Linked DNA regions of Homo sapiens. The protein of the gene in region 3 purifies or fractionates together with the protein of the main gene of each other region. This does not show direct contact. Each region holds a gene or a part of one and is shown on either strand. Other genes may lie near its edges.

The links.
Region 1: the proteins of ELSPBP1 (region 3) and PFDN1 purify together in Homo sapiens (co-immunoprecipitation; 2 studies listed by BioGRID and IntAct, with this or other methods). This does not show direct contact.
Region 2: the proteins of ELSPBP1 (region 3) and POGLUT2 purify together in Homo sapiens (co-immunoprecipitation; 2 studies listed by BioGRID and IntAct, with this or other methods). This does not show direct contact.

What each region holds. Positions count from the first base shown.
Region 1 is NC_000005.10:140,291,003-140,301,998, forward strand, and holds part of PFDN1 (prefoldin subunit 1), read right to left. Parts: intron 9,581-10,996; coding exon 9,414-9,580; intron 1-9,413. UniProt on the Homo sapiens protein: Binds specifically to cytosolic chaperonin (c-CPN) and transfers target proteins to it. Binds to nascent polypeptide chain and promotes folding in an environment in which there are many competing pathways for nonnative proteins.
Region 2 is NC_000013.11:102,781,695-102,790,886, reverse strand, and holds the end of POGLUT2 (protein O-glucosyltransferase 2 isoform 1 precursor), read left to right. Parts: intron 1-1,665; coding exon 1,666-1,875; intron 1,876-2,963; coding exon 2,964-3,053; intron 3,054-4,547; coding exon 4,548-4,655; intron 4,656-6,374; coding exon 6,375-6,392; 3' UTR 6,393-6,606; downstream 6,607-9,192. UniProt on the Homo sapiens protein: Protein glucosyltransferase that catalyzes the transfer of glucose from UDP-glucose to a serine residue within the consensus sequence peptide C-X-N-T-X-G-S-F-X-C. Can also catalyze the transfer of xylose from UDP-xylose but less efficiently.
Region 3 is NC_000019.10:48,003,176-48,014,171, reverse strand, and holds part of ELSPBP1 (epididymal sperm-binding protein 1 precursor), read right to left. Parts: intron 7,091-10,996; exon of another isoform or gene 6,949-7,090; coding exon of another isoform or gene 6,831-6,948; intron 5,522-6,830; coding exon of another isoform or gene 5,505-5,521; coding exon 5,435-5,504; intron 2-5,434; coding exon 1-1.

The DNA.
Region 1 (10,996 bases), on a different chromosome or scaffold from region 3:
CCTCATTGCCTCTTTAGAAACAACCTGTAGGAAGAGAAAGGGTAAGCCATGGAGACACCTGGAAGAAGGCTTCAGGCAGAGAAACTGGCAAGTGCAAAAGACTTTGTCTTTTTCACTGATGAAATGGGAGGCCATTTGACTACAGTGATCTTGACTTACATTTTCAAAGGATTACTCTGGCTGATCAGTTTAAAACAGACTATAAAGGGTTAAGGACAGAAGCAAGGAGCCTAGTTAGGAAGCAACTGCCATAAACCAATGGTAAATTAGACCAGGGTGGTGGTAAGTAGAAGTCTTCAGATTCTGAACAAAATTTAAAGATAGAGTCAACAGTATTTGCTAATGAGCTGAATATAAGATTGAAAGAGAGGGGCCAAGGGTGACTCCAAGATTTGGAAGAATTTGAAGTGTGGAAAAGCCACTTAGTAATACTGAGAGAGGAGATGGTTTGTTTATAAACAGCAAAAATTTTATCTTGGCCAAGCTAATTCTGAGATGCCTATTAGACCATCACATGAAGATGTAAAGTAGGCAGCTGAATATACAAGTCTGGAGTTCAGAGAAGGGGTCTAAGTTAAAGATAAAAAATCTGGGAGTTGTCAGTATATAAAAATGCATTTAGAGATACTCCTGGATGAGATTATTAAGAGACTGAGTACATATAGACAAAAAAAAAGAAAAAAAAAATCCAAGGGCTAAGGACAAAGTAAATTTAATATTTACAAATGCAAAAGAAATGAAGACAGTAAAGGAAGCTGAAAAGGAATGGACAGTGAGGTGGGAGGAATATCAAGAAGTGGTGTCCTGCAAGCCAAGGTAAGAACGTGCTTCAAGGAAGAAAGGTCAACAGGACCAAATGGTACTGATAGGTCAAATAAGATGAGGACTGAGAACTCACTGGAATTACTGGAGAATCACTGTCCCTTCCAGAACCCAATCCCATACAAGCGTTCCTTGTTCTAGTAGAGTAACACACACTGCTATGTTCAATTTTTACTAATTAAAAATTACTGCCTATTTTTAAATCAAAACTATTACTCCTGAAATGGAAGCAGTAGTATGTTAATCTATTTTAAACATGATGTTTATTTCGGGTTACTATTTGGTATTCTAAGTATTCTGGTAAGTAAGCACCTCTGATGTTTACCACTTTTACTCTGGCTTCATCAAACCCCAAACATTCCACGTATAGGCAGTGAGTTATTCCATAACTTTTTCCAAGATATGATCTTTATTTTACTAGTAAGTTAAAATATAGCAATAGATAAAATATTTTAAAATTACTATCCAATGAGTATTAGAAGACAGACAGAGAGCAGAGTACTCCTTGTACAAAAGCAGAATGTCATAGAGAAATATAAATATACTTTGGCACAAATGCCAAAGTCTCAGTCAGACACACACATACAGGATGCATATTGTGATCCAAATCTTTTTACTCTGAGCCAGTGTAAAGGTTGGGCTTAGGGCAGTCATGCTCTTATCTATTTAAAGATACATTTTTGATACTAGACTCCTGTTGCTGTACCAATTTTGGTATCAGAATACTTCAAGTCCTCTTCAAAGTGAAAAGCATAGTAGCTTCCAAGTAATGTAGTTCATTTCAAGACAACTGATCTACTGCAAAACAAGAGTTGGTAATAAGAGTTCCTGGCCAGGACAATGAAGTAACATTCTCCCAGACAGGTCCATTTGAACTTAAATTATATAAATGAAATAAGGATACACTCTTCACAAAAGCATGGGCACTAATGGTACATGTAACACACTAGTAATCCTAAGTATTTCATCAGAGTAAAGTATATTTGCAGTTAACAGCAATTTCTGATATTATAAATAAAAAAGAATGACAAAAGGCATTACCAAGTGCGTGTTCATATATATGAACTGACTCACCTTCTAAGTCAATATTTTTCTGAGCTCCTTCTTGGATATTTCATTAAGCAGATTATGTTCCTTGACATGAACATTTCAGTCCTCTCTCTCAGATTAGATAGTAAGTTATTCCTAACTTTGCACTATGAGATAAGTGGCAGCTAAAATCAGAAAATTCTTGGTATGGCTTAAAATTGACTGTTTTCAGAGAAATTCAGCTAATTAAGTCAGTTACAGCACACAATTCCTCAGTGACAAAGTTAACAGTTCAAGACTGCTGCTACCTTAATATTTTTACATAGGAACAGCAAGCAAATGGTACTTTTCACCTTTCGCTCAGTTGCTTATCATTGACTGGAAAACACTGTAGTATCCCGCAAATGACTGCTACTTTTCATACAACAAAGGCTGATTTTGTTTAATCCTTTGTCAGTTAAAAAAAAAAAAAAAGGCCAGGTCTTTTGATGTCAGGAAATGCAGAAGCAAGCAAAGTCCACCAAGTAGCTAAATGAATCAATTACATTTATGTTTTTAAAACAGGTCCAAAGCCTAAAATAAGTAACCCCATAGCAAGTTTATTTTAGTATGTTTGTACTCTCCAAGATAACAGACTTTTCCCTTTTTTAACAATAGACATCTAATTAGCATAACATTTTCAAAATTAATTTCCTGTGTTTTGGTGAGAATCTTTAGACTGGGGCATATGGGAGGGGAAGCAGGGAAATAATTATTAAAAAGTACTCGTCTGCAGAAGAAACAGGACTATGTAATTCTTACGCAAATGTTTGTTAACTCCCTCTGGCACAAAAACAGTGATGTCATTCTAGACAGCAGTAGAGCAGAGTTATAATGAACATCAAGTTTTTAAATCACTGACAACTTAAGGAAATTAAGAATATGACTTAAAAATCTCCTCTCCCCAGAGTACTAAATCTGTGCAAGAGGAATGTGTGCCCATCTGGGGTTATATACATATTCAGCGTCAACAAAACTTAAGTCATTTTTCCCTGCACAACAGGAAAAGATGTTGTTGTTTTCCCTTAGAACTCTGGGCAATGAAAGCCATGACTTTAAATGGCTCTGTATAAAAACACAAGAAGGGTGGGTCATGTTCTATTAGTAAAAGCAGCTGAACACCAAGAACTTCTCTTTCTTCAAGTAAAATCTAAAAAGTAATCTCATCTTACTTTTGACAACTATCTTTGCTTCACTTTCTCTAAAATACAGATTAATACCTTTAAAGAGGGTATAAAATGAATTTATAAATTGGCATTTGCAATGTGACTCTCACACCAAAAGTAATCTCACACATTATTTTTTCCCCTGTAGTATGCACTAAATAAAATATCCAAATTTGATTCTGCTGAGAGCAACAATATAAACTATTTTCACTGTAATATCAACAGTATTTATCAACAATATCAATAATATTTACTATACTAAGATTTTTTAAATTTCATTTCCTAATCTCTTAGCAATAAAATATAGTATGACCATTTCTTCAGTTTTAAAATTACCTGAAATTGACTGGAAGACCAACTCTATAGCTACATGAAATTGTAAAAGGGCTGCAAAACTTGAAGCAGTATGAGCATACCCCTTTCTATTAACATTTAACATAACTAAGGGAAGCTGCATATATTTCATCCCACCTTTACTAAATGCCACGATTCAAATTATAGGTCAACATCCAAACTAAGAAATACAATCACAACAAAACCAACATAACATTCTAAACAAAGGGCAGTTCAGCCAAGCTGTCATAAAGAGTTCAGATTTCTACAACCTAAACAGTTGAAAAACTGCTTAACTATTTAGATTTTTTTTAATTGTTACCTATCAGGAATACACCTACTGTTTCACTTTCTACTTATGCCACATTTATCTTAAGTTTTACACTTCTGGATCTTTCAACCGTTAGAGATCAACCATTAAATTACTTCAACAAGTAGAAATAGTAACACCGCTCCCAAACAGCAATTTTTGCATTGCTAGACACTTATCTAGTTGGCAGATTTATACCATTGTTCATTCTTAGTTCCTTAAATGTAAAAAATACCCACAGAATGGTAGCATACCTCTAAATTAGTTTAAATATGGTACAAAGTTATTTTTAGTTAGGTTCAAGTTTTAAAAAGGCACTAATTGTTCTTTTTAAAGGCTAATCTACTCAAGTTCCTCATATTAAAAAAAAAGTTAATTTGTCTCTTTTGGAAAAAAGAAATGTTATTTATGTAATGCTCAAGCAAAAAGGGTGTTCAAATAATAGATCTGACATCAAATCAGGGTTAGGATCATACTTATTGTTCATAAAAGTAAGTTTGACATTTATTCTAATGATGGTCCTTTCAAACACTAGTATGGTTAAATGTCATTTATATGCACTTTCAAATATAATTCTTATTTTAAAAATACTCCTATCCTCTACTATGCAAAGTAGAAAAGGAAGAAAACCCCCACAAGCAATTATAAACATTTTTATCCATGAAAAAATATATACAAGAAATATTCACATAACATTTAAGATTTGTCTATTCCCTCCTTGCATGCTAGAAAGATGCAAAGACAAACACTTCCAAATACTCAGACAGATCATTCCCCAGTTGTAACTTTCATCATAGTTCTCAAAGCAGTATGGTGAGGTCAGCTCACAAACAGCTTAAGTAGCAAAACTAGAAATTGGTGGTAGTAGTATCAGGCTACATAACAGCCTCTCTAAAGAAGATGAAGTAAGAGAACTAAAATGTGCTGGCAACACGCCAAAAGACTGGATGGAATATAGCTTTGAGCAACAAATACTCAGAGCTTACAGTATATAGCAATTCATCATCTCTTATCCTGTAGCTTGACTTTCCTTGTTTTAAACCAAAAATAGCCATGTATAAGAGGTATTTAACACTACAAAATGTGTCCATACTTATGAAATGAAAGATATCTGGGTCTGCAATGATTTGTTTAACTAAATACATACCCTAAAAAAAAAAAATCTGACTTACATTCTGTGTGAAGATGAGGAAGGTAAAATGGATAAAAATACATTGATATTATTATGCATAAAATAGCCTTTATTCTCTAAGGATTATACTACCCTCAAGCATAATCTTTAAGGTTTGGGTTTTCTATATTTTTAGTTCTGAGTGTCTCTTCAACTGGCTGGTATTTAGAATTAGACAACCTTCTCAATATATTTAATGAAGAATTAATCCTGTCAGATCAGAGGACGTGATTTTGGTCAGATATAATTTTTTTGACCTTAGTCAAAATATATGTTACTTTTATAATTTCATCTTACATGGATCATATATTAAAATAGGATAATAAACTCATTCTTAAGTCTCTAACACTTTCTAAAATACTTTTTTTTCTAAGAAACCAAAAGAAAAAAGTTATTTTAGGCCAGAAAAAAGAATCAGATTCAATTCAAATCAATACACATTTAATAGCTATTTTGTGCCAGACATTATACTGAGAATGAGGAAACAAAGATAATATATATACATGGTCTCCCAGAGCTGACAATCTGGCTGGGAAGACCGACCCATTTAAACACACCTACACACTCAATGTGCTTTACTAGCTGTAGGAACAAAAGCCCTACTATCGCCAAGGAAAGAGTGAATGAGTCTGCCCCAGGGGCTGAAAAAATCTTCAGAGGCAAAGTAAGAGTAGAGCTATGTCTTGAAGGATAAGAATTTCACAAGGAAAAGAGGAATATTGCCAGCCAAGGACAATGTTATTCGCCAAAGACTGAGCAAAAGCAAAAAAGCACAAAAACATAACATGTGTGAGGAAACCTATGTGGCAAGGGTAGGATAACAATTTCTAGTACATGTGCTACTACTCTTCTACCCTCACTGTGTAACAGACATCACTAATCAATTAAAGCATGTTTAAAACCCATTTGACATCTCAAAATTCTTCTCAACATATAACACAAACTAGTAGAAGGAGGTAGGTCCATGAGATGAAATATACATGCTATCCTAACCCTGGAAAAAGAAAGTGGTGGGACTTGAGGCAAAGGGTAAATTAAGAACAGATTATGAATAACCATGAATGCAAGGCCAACAAGTTTAGATTTTATCCTGTGGACAACAGAGGATGAACAAAGGACTTTAGGAAGAATATTGATGTGATTAATTCTGAAAGATATGTGAAGAATGGATTTGGACAGACAGAATGAAGGCAGGAAGAAAGAACAGTTAAGATGCTATCATAAAAGTCCAGGCAAGAAGCAATGAGACCTGAATTTCAGCAATGGGAAAATCTACTGCATGTTCTAAAAGAAAAATGAAGTTTTGGATTTTATTATAACCATTTTATTACGGTTTTAAAATGAAAATTTGGGAAAAAGTAATATTCTAGTCAGAATTCCCAAATAACACTCAAAATGGAAAAGAAAAAACAAAGTAAGGTAAAGACTAGAATTAAAGAAGTGAATCACAATGATACCCAAAATTACTCGACTATAAATTCAGAAATAGATATCTCAGGTTTAGCATCAAGAAAGAGAACATCCTCATGACCAGACTAATACTCAGCAAGTCTTTTCTTCCTCTCAGGGCACTAATACGCTAGCCAAACAACAAACGCTATTCACCTTACATGCCCCTACAATACAGGGTCAAACTCATACTCCCGGTGAGATGCAGACAGCACTAAAGTCAAATTTAAAACAGAAGTCTGAAATCATGTAGAAGCTCAACTTTATCCAAACATTTAAAACTCCACACTTCTTTTAAGAAACGTAATTTATATGAAATAAACCTTCTGGAAATAATACCATTCTACTATTTATTAATTCATATCCTAGCCTTTAAACTCCAAAATTCTTGGTATGGAAAACAACTTATCTGTAGCACTTTGGAAAATATGTACAAAAAACAACTCTCCTAACACTTCTGCAGAACGTTTAATAAATGAAACTATTCTAATTAAAAATTAAAACTTCACTGTAGCTCAAAAGCCCAAAGGGAGTAAAACGTTTTTTCTATTTTGAAAAAGGAATTCTTTAGCTATTGCAAACAAAGGCTAGCGCAGTGATGTGAAATCCAAGTACAACATGTTAATAAAGCTGGCATTACTGTTTTAAGACCTAAGGATATTCACATTAAGGATAAAATTATCCTGTAGTGAATGCCAACAATGCATTTCATACTACACAGACACATATTCAAGGGTTCTACTTTGTTCCAATTCTTTTGTGTCCCAGTAACAAACTCTCAAATTGGGATCCTTATCCTCTTAAACTAAAATGAAATATATGAGCTTGGACATAAAATTTACTTGTGCTACATTATTCATTCTGAGAAAGCAAATCAGATGAACAATTTAACATAATCTAATTCTGAACCATAAAGATATGGATTAGTCAGTGATGAGCAGGTCTACTTCTCATGATGTCATTCCAAAGTCATTATTAAATTTTACACATGTTATTCTTTCTTCAAATCAATCACAAAACAAGTCATCCCGAGACTGAGGTCAAATTCCATTCTAACTAAAAGATCTCCAAATCTGAAGTAATGGTCTACTTACTAAGTAATACTCAAAGACCAAATTCCAGAAAAACCCTCCTCCTGTACCTCCCCCCAACTTAAAAAAAAAAAAAATCAGTCTTCTCCTTTTAGCTCACTGTAATGGAATGTGACCTGTACTTAAGGGCTTTTCCATTCCTTTTTTTCTGCTTACAGAATATGAAGCAGACCTATTCTCTCTCACAAGGGCAATATGCTTTTAAAAGAAAAAAAAGTGAAATGTACGAAGTTAATAATGTATTAATTAGAACAAACAAAAGTAAAATAATTTACTAGATTTCTCACATGTGAGTTGTCCTCCTATTAGAACAATGCATGACACTTAGAATGAGTGTATTTTTTACTTTTTTTTTTTTTGAGGCAGAGTTTCACTCTTGTTGCCCAGGCTGGAGTGTAATGGCGCAATCTCGGCTCACTGCAACCTCCACCTCCTGGGTTCGAGCAGTTCTCCTGCCTCAGTCTCGTAACTGGGATTACAGGTGTGCGCCACCATGCCTCGCTAATTTTTGTATTTTTAGTAGAGATGGGGTTTCACCATGTTGGCCAGGCTGGTCTCAAACCCCTAACCTCAGGGGATCCACCCACCTTGGCCTCCTGCAGTGCTGAGATTACAGGCATGAGCCACTATGCCTGGCCAGAATGAGTGTATTTAAATGACAATTGAATTTTTATTTTTATTTTACAACACTGATCAGACATCTGAAAGATTTATGATTTGTATCACTCCTAATAAATTAAGCAGGGAAGAGGAGGTTAAAACTGCACCTACTTAAATAAATCTTCTTCACATACAATATAATATTGCTATAAACATTTTCCATGACAAATCATTTTTATTACTGAACTTACACTTAAGTACCTAATCATAGACAGAACAGGAAAGTAAGCACTTAAGAAATGTACTTTGAGGCCAGGGGCGGTGGCTCACGCCTGTAATCCCAGCACTGTGGGAGGCCAAGGCGGGCGGATCAAGAGGAGAGATTGAGACCATCCTGGCCAACACGGTAAAACCCCATTTCTACTAAAAATACAAAAATTAGCCGGGCATGGTAGCATGCGCCTGTAGTCCCAGCTACTCAGGAGGCTGAGGCAGAATTGTTTGAACCCAAGAGGCGGAGGTTGCAGTGAGCCAGAATCACACCACTGCACTCTAGCCTGGCAACAGAGCGAGACTCTGTCTCAAAAAAAAAAAAAAAATGTACTTTAAAGTCTAAACTTAAACACTTTAATTAATCTACCTGAAGTTCAGCTCCTCATTTTAAAAAAAGAAAGCATTTAATTAGATAATCTTTAAAGTTATTTCTAAGATACTTTAACCTGCCGGGTGTGGTGACTCATATCTGTAATCCAGCACTTTGGGAGGCTGAGGTGGGCGGATCAGGAGGTCAGGAGTTCCAGACCATCCTGGCAAATATGGTAAAACCCCGTCTCTACTAAAAACACAAAAATTAGCAGGGCGTGGTGGCAAGCGCCCGTAATCCCAGTCACTCAGGAGGCTGAAGCAGGGGAATCGCTTGAACCCAGGAGACGGAGATTGCAGTGAGCCAAGATCGGGCCATTGCACTCCAGCCTGGGCGATATAGCGAAAACTCCGTCTCAAAAAGAAAAAGATACTTACTTTAAACCAAAGTTTCTTTTGTTTTGAGACAGAGTCTAGCTCTGCTGCCCAGGCTGGAGTGCAGTGGCATGATTTCGGCTCACTGCAACCTCCACCTCCGGGGTTCAAGCGACTCTCCTGCCTCAGCCTCCCAAGTAGCCAAGACTACAGGCAAGTGCCACCATGCTCAGCTAATCTTTGTATTTGTGGTAGATACAGGGTTCCACCATACTGGCCAACAGGCTGCCCTCAAGTGATCCACTCGCCTCGACCTCCCAAAGTGCCAGGATTACAGGCATGAGCCACCACTCCTGGCCTAACCCAAGTTTTAAGATGAACAAATTCTATTTAACTCGGACAAAAGCACTCCCAAAATAACTCCATTAAGGACACATTTTACTTACATTCTTCCTACACCTTCATACATGTTAGTCTCATCTACCAAAGTCATGATCTCTGTATCTGTAAGATGTGCATGCTTTTTCGTTCTGTTTAGCTGTTCAATCTGTATGTCTGCGAGCTTCACCTTCTGTTGAGTGTCAATAACTTTGGCTTGAAGCTCTGTGAAGGCCTAATAAAAACAAGTCCATGATTTAGTAGGTAAAACATTTTACAGGAAACATTTACCTCAAATCCAAATATATTAAAACAAAATATGCTAGCCAGAGACAAAGCTGTGAAATTTACCAAACATCAATAAAAGTCAACATAACTGTAAACAATCAAGTCACCATACTAAATACTGAATTTACAATCATCAGAAGATACAATCAGTGTGAAGCAAATCAAATGCATATTAAGTAATAACCATATTAAGTAGCAAGTACTCAAGGAGTAGTAAAAGAAATAAATGCAATAGTCAAGGATGAAATCCAGAGATTCAAAACAAGAACCATAAAAGTAATAACTCACTACATTTGTATTGCACAATTAGGTTTCAAAGCACTTTCTCACATTAGTTTGAAATATTAACATGGGAATATTAATATAAGAATATTAATGAGGAAATATAATAAATATCTCATTTATGCCTCTCAGTAATTCCATGAGTTAGCATTGGCAGTCTCATCATCCACAATTTACAAATTAAGTAACCAAATGAGTTAAGAGATAAAAGTGGCTTGCACAAGGTTGAACAACTACTGGGGGGAAGGCAGGTGTTATTTAAATCCATTTCTTCTAACCCCTTAGTTCAGCAATCTTTCCATTCCACTGTCTATAGTAATATTCATAATATGAACATTTTTAAGAGGAAGACCAAGAAAGAGAGTGAGAAAAAATGCAAAGCACTGGCAAAAGAATTGCATCATGATCTTCATCCACAGATACCAGGCCAAATTTGACCCTTGCGTACACTTACTTAACTGGAAGATAAACAGTTCTTGGATACTTTTGTTGAAGTGCCTGGAATGACTTTCACATGCTGTTAAATTTGTGCCTTAATAACATCTGTGACTGCAATGCACAGCAAAGGCTACTACATAATTTTTATTGTGACCTTGTTTTCACCTACTAGTAAGGTTTTGAAAGATTTACTTTGGGGAAGGGGAGGGGCCTGAAATTTCCTATTTGTCTCCACCCAAAAAAAGGACCCTGTAAAAACATTAGAAGATAAAACCTTTAAACAAGTTTTTTAATTAATTGGTTATCAAAATTATTCATTTTAAGTTTGTAATCATTTTCTTAGTTTGCATTCACCGCCCGCAAGTTTCAAATGTAGCAATAAATTCAAAAGTACCGGGAGGCAAATCCATTCACTAAACCCTGATTTAAATCGGTACTTTTAACAGAAGAAAAGGTAAATTTTTAGAATGCACAATTTTGTTTTGAAATGTAAAATTCCAGGTATCATCTGACTGCTCTATACAGCTTGCTAAGGAAGCTAGTATACCATTAAAGATGAGCTAGTATACTGTTAAAGATTAGAGACTCCACCTAAGAGCTAAATTTACAAGATTCAAGACAAGAAGAACAAAAGCAAGACACA
Region 2 (9,192 bases), on a different chromosome or scaffold from region 3:
GTAGCTAATCTTTTTTGTTTTTCTAATGTATTTGTACATAGTGCTTTGGGAAGGGAAATTAAGGCCTGCAAATTTCAAGAGGTGGGAGAAGTTAGCACAAAATTGAGCGAATATTGAGACATGGGGGTGCTGGGGACTGTTTTGGCAACCAGGGTCTGCCCTCACTGCCCAGTCTTGATATTAAATGCGCATCAAGGGAGTTTGGAGCCTGGATAGAGCTATAATTTTTTTCCAGCTAACCCTTGAGATAAGCACATGTCACCTCCAAATATGTTTTTATTAATACTTACATGTAAGTCATTTTACAAATACTTTTTCCCAGAGCCATGTTATCACAACAGAATAAGGAAGATATAAACTACTTGTTTCTTACCAGGCCTTCTGGTGGGGAATGACGTGAAACTCATCCAAATGTTCTGTCTGGGAATTAGGGTTTGCTTTCTCTGTCTAGAATGTGGATTCCGCATGGTTCCTGGGGAGTAGTCCTTTTTCTAACAACTCCTTTTATAAGGCAGTGGGCACCACCCTGCTCTTTAGACCATGGAGTTGTTTCTGAAGTCCCCCATGGTAGAGAGAGAGGTGGGAAAAAGGTCATCATCTGTCCTCTGTATGTGGGAAGACAAGTGATTAACGAGTTCTGTCTGCCCTGTAGATGACCAAATTTTCTTTTGATGGGTTTTGTTGAGGCAGGTTGACCTAAATGTTAACCTTGTTCAATGTTAAAGTTGAATTGTCAGTATTTTTCTATATGCATATCCCAAAGATTTTTGAAAGAAATGATTATAACCAAAGTGAAAGGATACTAGCCAACCTTCCTCAGTGGAGGGGTGCTCCATCCTGCCTTGGCTTTATTCCTGCCTGTTGAATTTTCTGCAACTAAAGATGATAGATTACCACAGTTCTATGAATATTTTTATTCATAGGTGTTCTTGCTCCAGAGCTTGCTAATTTCTTTAAGACATATGTCTGGGTGTTTAAAAAATACGGTTAGCCAGGCGTGATGGCTCACGCCTGTAATCCTAGCACTTTGGGAGGCTGAGGCAGGCAGATCACCTGAGTTCCAGGGTTCGAGACCAGCCTGGCCAACATGGTGAAACCGCATCTCTACTAAAAATACAAAAATTAGCTGGGCGTGGTGGTGCGTGCCTCTAATGCCAGCGACTGGGGATGCTGAGGCACAAGAATCACTTGATCCCAGGAGGTGGAAGTTGCAGTGAGCTGAGATCACGCCACTACACTCCAGCCTGAGTGACAGAGCAAGACTCTGTCTCAAAATAAATACATAAATAATACGGTTAACATGGCTCAGAATATGCCATCATTAGGGGCACATTTGCAATCAATAAAGTAGCAGGAGAATTACAAAAAGTCACAAATGAATCCATCCTTCCTTATGTTGCAGCCTTAGGACAGCAGTATGATTGTATTCGCTGCTTCAACACTAGATTTGTATCCTTTGTAAAATTGAGAAGCACATCAAAATGAGCATTTAGCTCTAGATCAACCTGTTGTTTAATAACACTTACTAAACGGCAAAGGCAGAGCGTGGAAGCTGACCAAATTGTGTCTGAGGATTGCAAAGGTTTATGTGTGGGATGGGAAGGAGAATAGAGTGGAGAAAAGGAGATTTAATAGAGGTTCTTAGACTTTACCATTGTTTTGCAGCATAAGTATCAAATAAATATCGATGGCACTGTAGCAGCTTATCGCCTGCCATATTTGCTAGTTGGTGACAGTGTTGTGCTGAAGCAGGATTCCATCTACTATGAACATTTTTACAATGAGCTGCAGCCCTGGAAACACTACATTCCAGTTAAGAGCAACCTGAGCGATCTGCTAGAAAAACTTAAATGGGCGAAAGATCACGATGAAGAGGTAAGGTTAGTCCCCTTGAAGGCTTATTTCCACTTGTTTCCCAATATCATGGGTCCTTTTGAAATGTATTGTACCTGGAGAGCATCCAGGATGTTCACGTAATAGACTTTGGCCTGTAAATGGGAAGCTGCCTGCCCATAGATGGCACGGCAGTTCCCCTAGGCTGAACACAGCGGGCACTGCATCTTACATTAACTCTCCACTCTGCATGTGAAACAAAAAGCTAGGCTGGGTGCGGTGGCTCGTGCCTGTAATCCCAGCACTTTGGAAGGCTGAGGCAGGCAGATCACCTGAGGTCAGGAGTTCAAGACCAGCCTGGCTAACATGGTCAAACCCCATCTCTACTAAAAATACAAAAATAAGCTGGCGTGGTGATGGGTGCCTGTAATCCCAGCTACTGGGGAGGCTGAGGCAGGAGAATCACTTGAACCTGGGAGGCGGAGGTTGCAGTGAGCCGAGACCACACCATTGCACTCCAGCCTGGGCAACAAGAGCAAAACTCCGTCTCAAACAACAACAACAAACAACAACAACAACAACAAAAAGCTAAACTGTGGCCTTGATTACACTTTCTCTTTCAAGTAGCGTTGCTCTGAGCCACAAGCATTGCCTCCGCTAGCAATGTGAAAATTGTAAGATGGCCAGTCTGGCAGAAGTCACTAACAGGCTCCAGGTTAAAATGAGGGATTGATTCAGAAGTAGATGCAGCCATAAATACAGAAATAAAGAGGGATGGAATGCAATAAACTTTAAGCTAATTGTCTCCTGAAATTTGTGAAGGCAGCTGGCTAAGCTTCATCTTGCGTTTACAAAGTCATCAGTTTGCTTGGTGTACAACCTTGTCTCTCCAGGAGAGGCTTAGTTCTAGAAGGTCCAATATGACTTTTCAAACTTTTAAGTCTTAGAAACCTCCCTCTGATTTAAACAAACATACTCTGTTAAATGTTCTGTTTTACCATGAGACTACCCCCAAAGATATTATTTCCCACAGTTGCCCCAATGTATACATACTCTGAAGAGCAGTTTGCAGATGCCTGCATGGGAAAAATGGATTCTATTACAGGATTTTGTCGTTGTTCTTCCTGTAGGCCAAAAAGATAGCAAAAGCAGGACAAGAATTTGCAAGAAATAATCTCATGGGCGATGACATATTCTGTTATTATTTCAAACTTTTCCAGGTCAGTATTTTCCAAGAAAATCATCACGTAACTTATAAGTAGACATGTTAAGAACAAATAATATTTTACTTAACAATTTCTAAACATATGTTACTATAGGGAGATATATATACTTCTGTGGATGAAAATCAGAGACAAATATTAAGTAATCATAAAAAAATAGTTGAAAACCAAAGATTAGCTAATGGAAAATGTTACAATATTAAGCGAAAACTATTAATATTAGAACTATGTGATGTCTGACTAAGAAATTGGCCTCTGATCCTACAAAGTTACAGTGCATGGATTTGTATGTTCTCTTTGTGTTACATTGCTGCTGCCTTACCATTTCTTTGTCTAAACAGTGCCAGGTGTGTTTGGGCCTCTTGTCTTGACTCTGTATGAGCCATGACTTCCCTTGGAAATTATTTCCATGGACCTAAGCATTTAGAGATTGTAATCAAGCATATCCGACGATTTAAAGGACTCTTTTAAAAATGTGGTAGTAGGCCGGGTGCGGTGGCTCACACCTGTAATCCCAGCACTTTGGGAGGCTGAGGCAGACAGATCACCTGAGGTGAGGAGTTTGATACCAGCCTGGCCAACATGGTGAAACCCCGTCTCTACTAAAAATACAAAAATTAGCCGGGTGTGGTGGTGCACACCTATAATCCCAGCTATTCGGGAGGCTGAGGCAGGAGAATCACTTGAACCCGGGAGGTGGAAGTTACAGTGAGCCGAGATCGTACCCCTGCACTCCAGCCTGGGTGACAAGAGTGAGATTCTGTCTCAAAAAAATAAACAAACAAAAAAAAAAAAACAAAATCAGGTAGTAAACAAGTTCTTGGCTAATAACAGTACTAGATCTAGAGTAAGAGTTTTATCTCACAGTTGCAGATACTGAGCCCCATATCTGAGGCTCTGCTACAGATCAAAGTTGGTGTATTTCTGGCCTGTACTGGCTCCTCCCGATTTTGTAACCTTCCCTTGATAGAGGGAAGCAGAGGACAAACCGTGTAAAATGAATAAACTGGGGGGATTTACCATGTGAATTTCTAAGGATCCATGGGGCAGTGTTCATTCATTTAGCATAGGTACTTAGCACAGTGCTTCACTCAGAGTAAGCACATGATAAATGAAGATGATGATGGAGGCTTGTGCAAGCCATGATAAGGAAAGCAGAATAGTCTCTGTCTTCACATTCTCAGTCTAGGGAAGATTGTGTGCAAAATTATTTTTACTGTGAGGCAGAAGACGGTTAAAAAAAAAAGTCATGGAAATTTAGGATAGCATAAAGAGGTGTCTGTTAGGAATAGGCAGCCAGTGTTCAAAGGATGGCCTCCTCTCAGATGCTCTACTGTTGATGTTCAGAACTGGTATATATGACGGACTATGCAGATCACAGTTTGACACACATGAGTTAAATGAATCATAGTCTTCATATATTCTAGCCTCTCTCATTGGGTGGATATAAAGTGTTTTATAAGGAATGCTTTTATATTGTTGCTTAAACAGGAATATGCCAATTTACAAGTGAGTGAGCCCCAAATCCGAGAGGGCATGAAAAGGGTAGAACCACAGACTGAGGACGACCTCTTCCCTTGTACTTGCCATAGGAAAAAGGTAACCAGAACTGAGCTTATGGCCGGTGTCAGAGTAAAAACTAACATTGATCCAAACTTGCTTTTATTCCTATAGTCATTCAATCAGGCAGCAAATATTTGAGTTCCTCTCGAGGTCTCCAAGCAATTCAGTCTGCCAGAGAGATAGGTATAAAAGATAGCAGTGCTCAAGAAAGGATGCTACAATGCAGTTAATTGAGAAGACATGGTAGCTCCCTGGCAAAGTGGGGGGAAGTCTTTTATAATGTGAGAATCCAGCTCACACCCTATTTGAATGGATGCTTACAGTCTGAAAAATATTTTCATGTGTATCATCTGATGCCCTCATCTCCTCATGAGATAAGTTTGGCAAAGTTCATCATCCCAGTTTAGAGAAGGAAAAATATGTAACCACGATTATTAATGTTTTCCAATTCTTCATTTGAAAGTCATCTCAGTTGATACCACTACATAAGGATCTCATTGATAAAAATGAAAGTCAGATTCACATCTGGACTTTTAAGGTAGAAAGGACCTTAGAAGTCATCCAGTAAATGCCTTCATTTTATGGTTAACAAAACTGAGCCCAAAAAGGAATTGTGCTCAAAATCATCTAGCTGGATTATAGCAAAGCAAAAACCAATCTCTCATCATCAGATTGTGATTGTGTGTGCTTGTATATAAAGCTATAGTGTGGCAGGGGACTGTTGCTTTGATTATGATTTTTGTTTGTTTGAAGGAATGTAAATTGCATAAACTAGAGTGTGTGTGTGTGTGTGTGTGTGTGTGTGTGTGTGTGTGTAACATATGCTGACTTAACATTTTAGGCAACATAATTAGGTTTCTGAATGGACAAGTTCAAAATTGTGGTATTATAACCAAAGACAAGAAGGCAGATTTGGCAATTATTATGTCTACCTCTCAAGGAGGTGTAAAAGGAATTAAGGTGAGGCTGGCCCCAGTGATGTGACAGAACCAGCTTATATGAGCTCACTGATAAATATTCAGGAATTTTGCATACTAGTTAAATTTTTGGTAGCTTGGAATCATCCTGATAGGAGTATTTACACCATGACAATCAGCACATGCTACAAATCAGAATTTTGGCTGTTTTATTTTTGTCTTTGTTTTTTATAGAACTCATTAACCACTAACCAACTGGCCCTCAGAGGTGGTTCGTCATCATTGTGAACTCTGTCAGTGCTCCAAGGCCATAAAAATCAGTTAAAACCAATGATAAAACAAGAATTGCCAAATCGAAAGGTTCCCCCTCACCAATCCGTGATTTGGTATCAGAACACTTCTCACTTTGGCTCTAAGTGAGACTGGCAGCTTCCTTGCTCCACTCCTGCTCAGTTATTTATCTTCATCTACGTGATTGAGAGGAGGTACCCAGCCAGTTTCTTCCACTGAGTAGTAGAAGTTAGGGGCCAGAATGATAGCTTCGTTTATTTTTTGCTCATTGTCTATCCTAGTCTTTCACCACTACTGTTCATAACATGAGGCCTTTACAGTAGTACAGCCCATGGATGTTTGGGTTCCTTATCAGTAGGCTATGAAACACAATGTGATTTTACCCTTAGCTGACTCTGGGCCTCTGGAAATAGTCCCAAGCCCTAAAAGCCTCTAGCAGCAGCTTGGCTCCCTCTCATCTTTACAGGAAAATAATTAACGAATGTAAGTCTTCTTCACTTGTGTAAGACTTCTTGATAGCTCTAAATATTTTGCTTCTTAATTGCAGACCAAAGATGAACTCTGATATGCAAAATAACTTCTATTAGAATAATGGTGCTCTGAAGACTCTTCTTAACTAAAAAGAAGAATTTTTTTAAGTATTAATTCCATGGACAATATAAAATCTGTGTGATTGTTTGCAGTATGAAGACACATTTCTACTTATGCAGTATTCTCATGACTGTACTTTAAAGTACATTTTTAGAATTTTATAATAAAACCACCTTTATTTTAAAGGACTACGTTGTGCTAATTATTAGCCGTGTTTGGAACAGAGAGCAGTAAAAACAGAGAGAATCTGGGTCCTTAATGCACAGCAGCCCAGACCACCTGCCCAGACTGGTTTTAAATGACAAAGCAATGAACCCCTGTCTCCTTTTAAGCCCATATTATTGTGGGTATTCAGCCAAACTTAATTCTAGCTAATACTTCGTACAAGGCCAGTCATTAGATGGCCTCTACCTGCATCTTTAGTCAAATCTCTCAGCACTTTCTAGTATCAATACTGTCCTCTGGAAGAACGAGTCCTCTCCCAGTTCTGTCAATGCCTGTGTCCTTACCTTCCTGGCTCTTGCCTTTCCCTTGTCCTGGAATGTCTTGGCCCTCTTTTCTTCAACCGGCTTACACATCCTTCAGCACATATTTTATCCTTACTAGATTTTAAGTGCCATGACCTCAGAGACCAGGCCTTTCTTCTGGGTAGTCCTAACGTCTAATAGAGTGCCAGCAACTAGAAAGACTGAATAAATATCTAATGGGTGATATGGTTTTGATGTTTGTCCCTTCCAAATCTTATGTTGAAATGTAATTCTGAGTGGTGGAGGTGGGGCCCGGTGGGAGATGTTTGTATCTTAGGGGTGGATCCCTCATGAATGGCCTGGCACCATCCTTGCAGTGACAAGTGAGTTCTCACTGTGAGTTCACATGATCTGGTGGTTTTAAAAGGTGTGGCACCTCCCCCTCTCTCTGTGTTGCTCCCTCTCTTGCCACCTGATACCCTGGCTCCACTTTGCCTTCCACCATGATTGGAAGCTTCCTGAAGCCCTCTCCAGAAGCAGATGCTGGCACCACACTTCCTATACAGCCTGCAGAACGATGAACCAAAATAAATCTCTTTTCTTTAGAAATTACCCAGCCTCAGGTATTTCTTTATAGCAACACAAAAATGGCATTAACACAATGAGTAAATGAATGAATGAAAATCACTTTGAAATGCAGTTAAAAGAATTTAAAAAGAACTAAAAATCTGAACACTGAACCATATATCATATTCTACAAATTCCTTTACCTAATATTCTCTCTTCCATTCATCTTCCAGTCAAATAATTTTTTCTAAATTATTTTGAATTTTGAAATAGACATACAGAAGAATATAAAACATATATCTGCAATTTAAACATATATCTGCAATTTAATTATAAGAAAACATCCATGTAATCACTGACAAAGATTCTTTGCTTGACCACCTGTATTAGTCCATTCTCTCGCTGCTAATAAAGACATACCTGAGACTGGGTAATTTATAAAGAAAAGAGGTTTAATTGACTCACAGTTCCACAGGGCTCAGGAGACCTCAGGAAACTTGCAATCATGGCAGAAGCGGAAGAAAACAAGTCTTTTCTCACATGGCAGCAAGGAGAAAGCACCAAGCAAAGGGAAAAAAGCCTCTTATAAAACCATCAGATCTCGTGAGAGCTCACTCACTATCATAAGAACAGCATGAAGGTAACTGTCCCCATAAATCAATTACCTCCCACCAGGTCTCTCCCACAACATGTGGGGATTATGGGAACTACAATTCAAGATGAGATTTGGGTGGGGACACAGCCAAACCATATCATTCCACCCCGGCCCCTCCCAAATCTCACATCTCACATTTCAAAACACAATCATGCCTTCCCAACAGTTCCCCAAAGTCTTATTTCATCATTAACCCAAAAGTCCAAGTCCACAGTTTCATCTGAGACAAGGCAAGTCTCTTCCACCTATGAGCCTGTAAAATCAAACACAAGTTAGTTACTTCCTAGATACAATGGAGGTACAGGCATTGGGTAAATATACCTGTTCTAAATGGGAGAAATTGGCCAAAACAAAGGGGCTATAAGCCTCATGCAAGCCCCAAATCCAACAAGGCAGTAATCAAATCTTAAAGCTCCAAAATAATCTTTGACTCCATATCTCACATCCAGGTCACACTGATGCAAGAGGTGGGCTCCGACAGCCTTGGGCAGCTCTACCCCTGTGGCTTTGCAGGCCACAGCCCCTCACCCCAGCTGCTTCCACAGCTGGCATTGAGTGTCTGCGGCTTTTCTAGGTGCAAGCTGCAAGCTGTTGGTGGATCTCTCATTCTGGATCTGGAGGACAGTGCCCCTCTTCAGCTCCACTTGGCACTACCCCAGTGGGGACTCTTGTGTGGGGCCCAACCCCACATTTCCCTTCCACACTGCCCTAGCAGTGAGGGCTGTGCCCCCGCAGCAAACCAGCCTGAACATCCAGGTGTTTCCGTACATCCTCTAAAATCTAAGCAGAGGTTCCCAAACTTCAATTATTGACTTCTGCATACCCGCAGGCTCAACACCATATGTAAGCTGCCAAGGCTTGGGGCTTGCACCCTCTGAAGCCATGGCCCAAGCTGTACCTTGGTTCCTTTCAGCCACAGCTAGAGTGGCTAGGACACAAGCCACCAAGTCCCTAGGCTGCACACAGCAGGGGGCCCTGGGCCTGGCCCCAAAACCATTTTTCCCTCCTAGGCCTCTGGGCCTGTGATAGGAGAGGCTGCCTTGAAAGTCTCTGACATGCCCTGGAGACATTTCCCCATTGTCTTA
Region 3 (10,996 bases):
CCTGAAGGGCAGAAGGAGAAAACAGGAGTGGGGAAGAATCACGATGAATTAGCAAAGGATGAGTCTTGGTTTGGCTCTTGCTTTAATATGAATGTCCGTGTTCCCTCCCTGCCCCCGCCGCAAAATTCATATGTTAAAATCCTAACCCCCACGGTCATGGTACGAGGGGCCTTTGGAAGGTGATTAGGTCGTAAGGGCAGAGCCTTCATGACTGAGATAAGAACCCTTATAAGAGACCCCAGAGAGCTAGCTAGCCCCTTCTACGATGTGAGGATACAGCAAGAAGGCACCATCTGTGAACCAGGAGGCAGGCCCTCACCAGCAACTGAAACTGCTGGTGACTTGCCCTTGGACTTCTCAGCCTCCAGAACTGGGAGACAGAAATTTATATTGTTTATAAGCTACGCAGTCAATGGTACTTTTTAAATTTTATTTTATTTACTTTTTTTTTTTTTGAGATGAAGTCTTACTCTGTCACCCAGGCTGGAGTGCAGTAGTCTGGTCTCAGCTCACTGCAACCTCCACCTCCTGGGTTCAAGAGATTCTCCTGCCTCAGCCTCTAAAGTAGCTGGGATTACAGGTGCCCGCCACCACACCTAGCAAATTTTTGTATTTTTAGTAGAGACGGGGTTTTGCCATGTTGGCCAGGCTGGTCTCAAACTCCTAACCTCAGGTGATCCTCCCACCTTGGCCTCCCACAGTGCTGGGATTACAGGCGTAAGCCACCATGCCTGGCCTGTGGTATTTTGTTATGGCAACCCAAATGGACTGAGACAGTTCTCATGGTGGCCTGAAGGCTACACACCTAGGCTTAGCATCCAATTTCCTAATGACATGTCAGAGCATATCCAGTTCATGTTGGGGCCAGGAGCACTGGGGAAGAGTTTCATACACAACCAAGACAACCGTGGTGTGTTGTTCCTTGAGACCACTGTTTCTCAGAGCATAAAATGGGGGGCCAATGACATTACACAAAATACTTTTTGGTGGATCACAAGATCACATTAGGTTATGTAAGGACACACATTAAATAATTTTGAAATATAGACTAGAAAAAAATCATTTTCCAGTGGTCCTTTTAGTCCTTCTGCTTACGCAAAAGAGAAAGCTTCAATTTAATAGTAGTATTTCTCTACTGCATCTCTAATACTTAATAATCTCCCATTTTAACAAAAAAGAGAGGGGGGTGGGGAGCAGGACTCAAACTCAAAGCTTTATTCGGACGATAGTCTAGCAGAATTTAATAATGGGATTTTGTTTTCATAGTACAGTATTTCTTTTTGGTCGTACTTCCTATTTATGGAAAGTGGTAGTGCTTTTTTATATTATAATACTGATGTTAACCAATCTCCCAAAATGAATTTTTTAAAGTGAAGAAAAGTAAGCAAATTTAAAGAAAAATGTTGAGTAAATAATAGTACTGGTGGTACCCAGATGTGGCAAATATTGAGGGGACAACTTTCGACGTCCTTATTCTTCTCAATGAGTACAGGAACTTTGTTTTTTGTGCAGTGTATCTACAGAACCTAGAATAATTATTTGCTCAAGAAACAACAGAAACAATAAAATAAGTTTGGAAAAATGCCACGTGAAATAAAGTTAAACAGGTTTCTTTAATGAAGGACTCAACAGAAAAGTTAATATGAAAATGAGAATTGATGAATACAGTATATCGAGTTGTCCTTCTTTTTTTTCAAAATTCAATGGCACTAGAGACTAATGGTCCCTGAAATATATCAAAAAATGCTGTTCTCGGCCAGGCACAATGCTCCATGCCTGTAATCCCAGCACTTTGGGAGGCTGAGGTGGGCGGATCGCTTCAAGACCCGCCTGAGCAACAAAGTGAGACCCCCATCTCTACAAAAAAACAAACAAACAAGATTAGCCGGGCATGGTGGTGTGCCCCTGTAATCCCAGCTACTTGGGAGGCTGAGGGGAAGACCCTTTGAGCCTGAGTAGTTGAGGCCACAGTGAGCCATGATTGCACCACTGTACTCCAGCCTGGGTGACAGAGTGAGACCCTGTCTGAAAACAAAACAAAACAGAACAAAACAAAAAACAAAAACGGTGTTCTGCAGAATTTTGATGTGTAAATTTTTTTGAAAAAAGAAAGAAATGCTATTCTATCCCAAATTCCTCATTACATGAAAACCCACGTACAATAAGGACTAATTAAAGTTGATTGCTTTTTTTTTGTAGACCTGGGATGAGAGCTCAACTTGCTCAACTGTTAGTTCATTGCATTTTTCACCTTGTTTCTCAGAACTGTTTGGTATTTATTTTTGTGAAACTTAAACCAGTTTAAATCTGGAAAGTGCTTAGAAGAGTACCTGGAGCATGGCTGCTGCTTAATAAATATTAGCTATGATTATCATTGTCATCATCATCATCATTACCATCACTGTCATCATCATCATTCTCCACGCTATTGTCATTGGCATCATCATAATGCTCATCATCATTGTCATGATCATCATCATCAGTCATTGTCACCATCATCAGTCTCATTATTGTCATTGTCATCAGGATGATGATCATCATCATCGTTGTCATCATCATTGTCATCATAATCCACCTCATTATTGTCATTATCATGTGATGATGATCATCATTGTCATCATCATCATTGTCATCATTATCAGTCATTGTCATCATCATTGTCATCATCATTATCAGTCATTGTCATTATCATCAACCTCATTATTGTCATTGTCATCATCATCACTGTCATCGTGATCATTATTCTCCTCCTCATCACATCATTATTGACATCATCATTATCATCGTCATCATCATTGTCACCATCATCATCATCATCGTCATAATTGTCATCATCATCAGTCATTGTCACCATCATTATCAACCTCATTATTGTCATTATCATGGTGATCATCATCGTCATTGTCATCATCATTATCAATCATTGTCATCATCATCATCAACCCCATTATTGTCATTCTCATCATCATTGTCATCATTATTGTAATCATTATTTTCCTCCTCATCACATCATTGTCATAATCATTATCATCATCGTCATCATCATCACTGTCACCATCATCATTGTCATTGTCGCTATTATTGTTGTCATCATTACCGTCATCATTGTCATCATCGTCATATCATCATCATCCTCATCATTATCATTGTCATCTTCACTGTCATTATTGTCATTATCAATGCTTTGCCTCAGTCACGAACACCACTGAGTATATAGGATACTGTGTTGAGGGAGAGGGCAGATGCCCCTGTAGGTGGAATTAAGGTTATCTTTGGGAGTCGTTAGTAAGAATCAGCACATAATGAATACTATTAGCCATCTGCAAAGTAATCCAGCAGATGGCCTAATCTTCTTAACTGAGTTACAATCCTCTATAATCCAGACCCTGCTGACCTGCCTGTTCTCACTCCCTGATTAACATTCCCTTGACCTTATTCCATGTTCTTTCTCGTCTTTGAGATTTTGGTCCTGCCCTTCACCCTGTCCTGAATGCCTTTCCTCTCTTCCCAGCTTTAGTCCCTGCTATTCATCCATGAAGACTTGGCTCAGTCTGGGTCAATACTCTTCCTCACACTTATAATACTCAGAGTCAATCTCTATAAATGAATGCAGTTGCCAATTTTTTAAAAATAATTCATTTATGTGTCTATAACTCCCGATTACTGTGAACTCTCTGAGTGGAGGGTTTAGGTTTTGTTTATTTCTGCACTTCTGGTCCATAACACAATGTCTGGAACTTAAAGATCACTCAGTAAGTGTATACTGAATAATTTATCTGTAAATACACGCAAAGGGAACTTGGAATACTGAGTTTCACCACAAGTATGTGGGTGTGGTCTCAGGGAGGCATGACAAAAATGAGATTATAACTAGAAAAGTGGATACCCCATCAAGTACATTGTTCCTTGTCTGAATAAACTGTGAGTTCCTAAACTTTCAGGAATTTGTCAGTTCTTTGAGAACCCAGAACTTCTCTCTAGGAGAATATTCATATGCCCTTATGGTTGAGATGGCTGTGTGTTCACCGAAATCAGTTTCACTTTCCTCCCAAATGCACTGCTACACTGCATCTCCCAGACTTGCTTGCAGTTAAGAGCCATATCAGTTTTGGCCAGTGGAAGCAGGAGAAAGGGATGAATGTCACTTCCTGTCCTGGCCAAAAGAAAACAAACAAACAAAAAACCCTCTCCTCCAAGGTCCTCCAGACTCTCTTGATACTTGTCTACAAGCTAAAAGCAAAGAAACCTCAGCAGACTCTGAAACCGTAGGGGATGTTGGGGCTCCAGGATGTAAGAAGCTTGGATCCCTGAATGACCATGTGGAGCATTGTTTCCTGACCAGATGCACCCTTCTGGGATTTTGCAGAACCAAGAAAAAAAAAATGTTATTGTGTCAAGCAGCTGATAGTTTGGATTTTGTTTGTTACAATAGCTATTCTCACTACCCTCATAAATACACACTTTTTTTAAAACGTAAATTCCAGTTTTCATGGACTCTAATCCTCACTCAATGACCCCAGGTTAGGAATCTCTGGAATAAAGAATGTGGGATCAAGGTGCATCAATATGCAAATGGTTCCTGAGCCTTATCCAGAGGAGAACGATTTATCAGGCAGAAAAGGATTCTAATTGTGAAGAATGACTCACCAAGGCTTGAGTGAATGACATGTAAGCAAGGTTTCCTCTTGTTCTGTTTCCATGCTTACCTTACAGTCTTTTAGTGGTTAATTTAGATTCTGAGATATATTAAGATATAATTAGGTTGTCCAGGTTGGGGTCTGAAGGTTCTGTTCACTGGAATTATATAGCCTGCCTTTTACCCCCACCATGTGCTGAGCATTATGAAAGATGCTGGTGCCCATTATTTTATTTGATCTTCAAAATAACCCCGTGAGATAAATGCCGTTACTTCTCTTTTACAGTCTGGAAATTGACTTCAGAGAGCTTATGTTGCTTGACCAAAGTTACCAAGAAAAGAAGTGGCAGATCCAGGGTCCAAACCCCAGGTCTTCTGAGATTTTTTTTTTTTTTTTTTGAGAGGGAGTTTTGCTCTTGTCTCCCAGTCTGGAGTTCAGTGGTACGATCTCGGCTCACTGCAACCTCCACCTCCTGGGTTCAAGCGATTCTCCTGCCTCAGCCTCCCAAGTAGCTGGGATTACAGGCGCTCACCACCATGCCTGGCTAATTTTTGTATTTTTAGTAGAGATGGGGTTTCACCATGTTGGGCAGGCTGCTCTGGAACTCCTGACCTCAAGTGATCTGCCTGCCTCAGCCCTGCAAAGTGCTGGGATTACAGGTGTCAGCCACCGCGCCCAGCTTCTTCTGAGATTTTTGCTAAGCCATCTCCTGCCTACTTAGTTCCAGGAATCTTTGCTTTGCCCCATTCATTCTTCTCCAGCTTCTAAATCCTCCCTGTTGCTTTGAGTGTCCTTACCTCCACTTGACTCATAGGAATAGAGAAGGAAGGTTGTCCATCCCAACAGGTAACTGGACCATCGGGTCATCTTGGCTGCCCTCTTCTCTGTGGAAAAGAAGACAAAAATTTTCATCCCACACGTCCCCTTCCTCTTCCCATTACCTCCTAGATTTGACGTCATACATGCCATTTTTCTTTCCATCCACAGTAATTTAAAAAATAGACCAGGCATGGTAGCTCACACCTGTAATCCCAGCATTTTGGGAGACCAAGACAAAGGATCGCTTAAAGCCAGAAGTTCAAGACCAGCCTGGACAACATAGTGAGACCCCACCTCTACAAAATTTTCATTTAAATTAGCCAGGCATGGTGGTGTATGCCTGTGGTCCCAGCTATTCAGGAGGCTGAGGCAAGAGGATCACTTGAGCCCAGGAGGTCAAGGCTGCAGTGAGCTATGATTGTGCCACTGTACTATAGCCTCAGTAACAGAGTGAGACCCTATCTCTAAATACACACATACACACACATATACCACACACACACATATGTTTCTACATATGTGTGTGTGATATGTGTGTGTGTTTCTACATGTGTGTATGTACAGGTTTGTAGCCTGGAAGCACAGGCTGTATCATATAGCCCAGGTGTGTAGCAGGCACTACCATCTAGGTTCGTGTGAGTACACTCTATGATGCTCACACAAGGACGACATTGCCTAACAATGCACTTCTCAGACTGTATTCCTGATGCATAACTCTACTGTCATGTACTGTCCTTAGGAAAGTGTGATGGAAAGAAAAAAATGAAACACTTGTTGAACACTTACTGTACTCCAGGCTCGATGTTCAACACACTTTATGTCACTTGGCTTTCATAAATCAAGTAATACATGTTTTAACCCCCATTTTATAGATGCAGAAACTAACACTCAGACCTGGATTGGTCACCCAGGGAGGAAAGGGCAGGGTCTGGGTTCTAACCCATATTAATGGCTGCAAGGGCCCTTCTCATTGTTGGAACCTTAACAATAGCCTTAAATCCTCCCCATGAATCACACTCATCTCCTTAGCTGGAGACGAAAGTCCTTCAGTGATTAGCATTTACCGTCCTCATTAACCATAGTTATTACTAGCTCTATTTTCCTTCGTGCCGTTTCCTTGATGACAGATGACCATGCCATTCTCAGCAGCAACAAGAACCCACAGTTTGGAATTGGTGGTCTGGATTTGACTTGAGTCTCAGCTACTATCACCACTTCTACGGCTGGCTCCCAATTATTGACTGCTTACTGTATACCGGATGTCCTAAGCTTTGTATCCACAATCCAATTTGCTCCTGAAAATCTAAGGGCAGGCATGATCATCTCCACTTCACAGAAAAGGGAAACTGAGGCTTGGGAGGTTAAGTAACTTACCAAAGGACCACAGCTGGTACGTGATGTATCTCAGAGTCAGTGCGGGCCTGTCTATACTAGTGTCAGAGTTCTTAGGCAACGTAAACCCCTTCCCCTCTATGAGCCTTTGTTTCCTCATCTGCAGAATGTATTTAGTCGTTCCTGTGTCTCCGGGTGGCCACGAGGGTCCAATTAGACCTTGATGTGAAAATGCTTTTCACTTGTAGATCGTTAGTGGCATTTATGAATTATTAAAGCCAAGGTCAGGATAGCTCGGGAAGGCATCAGATGGAACCAACTTTTAGCAAGAAACCCAGATACCGCCAGGAATCAAAATCCCAAAGTTACTGATTTAAGTCCTCCCACAGGTAGGTGGCACCACTGAGTATCTGAGCCACACAACACGCCCCAAACTTTTTTCCTCTCCCAACAGTGCTTGGCTCTCCCGCTACACATCAAAGTGTCTTTCTCCCTTTTTCTTGTCGTTCTTCCTTGAAGCCTTTTACTCTTAACCCCAGCACCATGCCTCAAACAGGCTTTTTCTGAGTGATGTCTCATTCACTACTTGTGAAGGACTCTCATTCTCTTTGGCTAGTGGCTCAGTCAGGACTTAGACCTGACAATGCAGGATGAATGAGTCAGATTCAAATCCCAGCTCCACCGTTTACCAGCTGGGTGACTTCAGGGAAATTACTTAAATTTTCTTTTTCTTTTCTTTTTTTTTTTTTTTTTTTTTTTTTTGAGACAGGGTCTCACTCTGTCGCCCAGACGCCCAGACTGGAGTGCAGTGGCACCACCTCAGCTCACGGCAACCTCCATCTGCCAGGCTCAAGCGATTCTCCTGCCTCAGCCTCCCAAGTAGCTGGGATTACAGGCACGTGCCACCACGCCTGGCTAATTTCTGTATTTTTAGTAGAGACAGGGTTTCACCACGTTGGCCAGGCTGGTCTTGAACTCCTGACCTCAAATGATCCACCCGCCTCGGCCTCTTAAAGTGCTAGTGTTACAGGCGTGAGCCACTGGGCCCAACCTTAAATTTTCTAAGCCTCAGTTTCGTCGTGTCAAAACATGAGGATGCTAATCCTATCTACCACTCAGCCTTGTTATGATGATTAACGACAATCATAAAAATATGACAGATTTGGGAGGCCAAGATGGGAGGATTGCTTGAGGCCAGGAGTTTGAGATCAGCCTGGACAACATAGTGAGACCTCATCTCTACAAAAATAAAAAAAATAGCCTTGCATGGTGGTGCATGCCTGTAGTCCCAGCTACTCAGGAAGCTGAGGTGGGAGGATCACTGGAGCCCAGGAGGTCGAGGCTGCAGTGCACTATGATCGCACCACTGCACTCCAGCCTGGGCGACACAGCAAGGCTCTGTCTCAAAACACAAAACAAAACAAAAAACAGATAAAACTCATTGAGTGCTACACACTATTCTAAATTCACTGTAATCCTGATAGGAAGTAGCCCAACGTGGTAGGTACCATTACTACCCCAGATATGCACAGATGGGGCACAGTAAGCTTAAGCACCTTGCTGAGGGTTACAGATCATGCAAGTTGGAGAACTTGCAAGTGAACTCCAACAATCTGACTCAGTTCAGAGTAATTGAGCTCTTAACCAATGTACGATGCTGCCTCTAGGCTTAACATGGGACCGGACATGTGCTAAGAACTCATAAATATCATCCAAAATAGTATTGTTCATATAGTATTGTTTCACTTCTGAGAGCCAGAACTGTATTTTCAACTGCCTCCCAGACATGTCCACCTAGATGTCCTTCAAGCATCTCAAATTCCAAGCTTTGGCTGTTGAGATACAGCCCAAAATATGCTATCCTTCCCCCATGTTACTTCATTTAATTGCACTATGTTCTTCTCAACCACCTGAGTTGTAGCCCCCAGTGTAGATCTGCTGTCCCTGTCTCTTGCTGTGTTCTATCAGTCAGTTGGTTCTACTTTCTGGAGCTCCTGAATCTATCCGCTTTTCCTGCCTCTGCTGTTAAAGACTAAAGGAAGGCCTTTTTCATTTCTCTTCTCAACTATTCAACTGTTGTCCTGTTGCCTCACTGATATGCAGCCTCCAGCCTCTCTCCTCTACAAGGCTGAGCTCTTTTTCTCTTTTTGTTTTTTTCTTTTTTCTTTTCTTTTTTTTTTTGAGACAGGGTCTTGCTCTGTCACCCAGGCTGCAGTGCAGTGGCGCCATCATGGCTCACTACAGCCTCCATCTCCCATCAAGTGATCCTCCCACCTCAGCCTCCCAAGTGGCTGGGACTACAGGCACGCATCACCACACCCAGCTAATTTTTAAACTATTATTATTGTTTGTAGAGACGAGGTCTTGCTATGTTGCCCAGGCTGGTCTCAAACTCCTGAGCCCAAGCCATCCTCCTGCGTAGCCTCCTAAGCACTGGGATTACAGGCAAGAGCCACTGTGCCCAGTATGGGCCCTTTCCTGATGCATGCTTTATGCATCCACTCAGGAATGAGTATTTATTGAGCATTTAAAAGATGTGGGGCCAGGGCTACACGATGAGTATGCAGCAGTGGGTAAAGCAGGCATAGGCCCTGCCTTCGTGGGGCTGAGAGTCAACCAAGGAGACAGATATGAAGCGAAGAAACCAGAAACAAATACAACTCTTCGCTGTGATCATTGCTGTGGACGAGTCTCAGGAACAACTAGGACAAGGTCACTTTTGATTGAGAGGTGAGGGGAGGGTGCTCTGAGAAATGACAGGTAAGCTGACACCTGGAGGAACAGATGGAGGAGGGAGACGTGAGAGGAGCTGGAGGTATGGGGGTGGGGGATACATCCAGGCAGGAGAAGCCGACGTGGAAACTGCCTGAGATGGAAAAAGCTAGATGTGCTCAAGGAGCAAGTGGGACCCGCATGGCTAAGGCCCAGGCTGGGCACAGTGGCTCATGCCTATAATCCCAGTGTTTTGGGAGGCTGAGCAGGAGGATGGCTTAAGCTTAGGAGTTTGAGACCAGCCTGGGCCACACAGTGACACCTCGTCTCTACAACAAGTGAGGAGGAGCAAGGCCACAGAGATGCATGGTGAGATGGATGGGACCGGACCCTGTAGAGCCTCCCTCAGATTCTAAATGCAACCAGAAGGCCAGGTGTGGTGGCTCATGCCTGTAATCCCAGCACCTTGGGAGGCCGAGGCGGGCAGATCATCTGAGGTCAGGAGTTCATGACCAGCCTGGTCAACATGGTAAAACCTCATCTCTACTAAAAGTACAAAAATTCCCTCCACATGATGGTGCGTGCCTGTAATTCCAGCTACTCGGGAGGCTGAGCCAGGAAAATCGCTTGAACCCAGGAGGCAGAGGTTGCTGTGAGCCGAGATCATACCACTGCACTCCAGCCTGGGCAACAGAGGAAGACTGTCTCAAAAGAATAGAATAGAATAGAATAGAATAGAATAGAATAGAATAGAATAGAATAGAATAGAATAGAATAGAATAGAAGCAACCAGAAGCCACGGGAGGGGTTAAAGTGAGGAGGAGTGGGCCGGACACGGTAGCTCATGCCTATAATTCCAGCACTTTGGGAGGATGAGGTGGGCAGATCGTCTGAGGTCAGGTGTTCGAGACCAGCCTGGCCAACATGGTGAAACTCCATCTCTACTAAAAATACAAAAAAAAAAAAAATTAGCTGGGCGTGGTAGCAGGTGCCTGTAGTCCCAGCTACTCAGGAGGCTGAGGAAGGAGAATCACTTGAACCCAGGAGGCGGAGGTTGCAGTGAGCCGAGATCGTGCCACTGCACTCCAGCCTGGGTGACAGAGCAAGACTCCATCAAAAAAAAAAAAAAAAAGAGCAGGGGTGGCATTTATTCATTCAAAATCCTCCATCACCTTTAGAATACAATCCCTAGTCCATACTGTGCCTTCCCTCAAACTCATTTCTTATCTTCCTTCCCCTCCCTCGATCTGCCTTTTAGTTGTTTCCTGCAGAAGCCACCTCAAGGCCTTTGCACTCGCTCTTCTCTTTGCCTGGGATGATCCCTTGACCCCAGCTATTTGCATGGCTTGCTTCTTTGTGCAATAAAGAGTTCTGTGCAAATTCGAAGAATTGGTAGCAACTGATGGTCTGGAAGGTTTATGACTCTGCACAGACCAAGTTATGGATATTCATAGAAAATATTTTAGGGGCCATTCAAAATAATTATTCAACTGTAA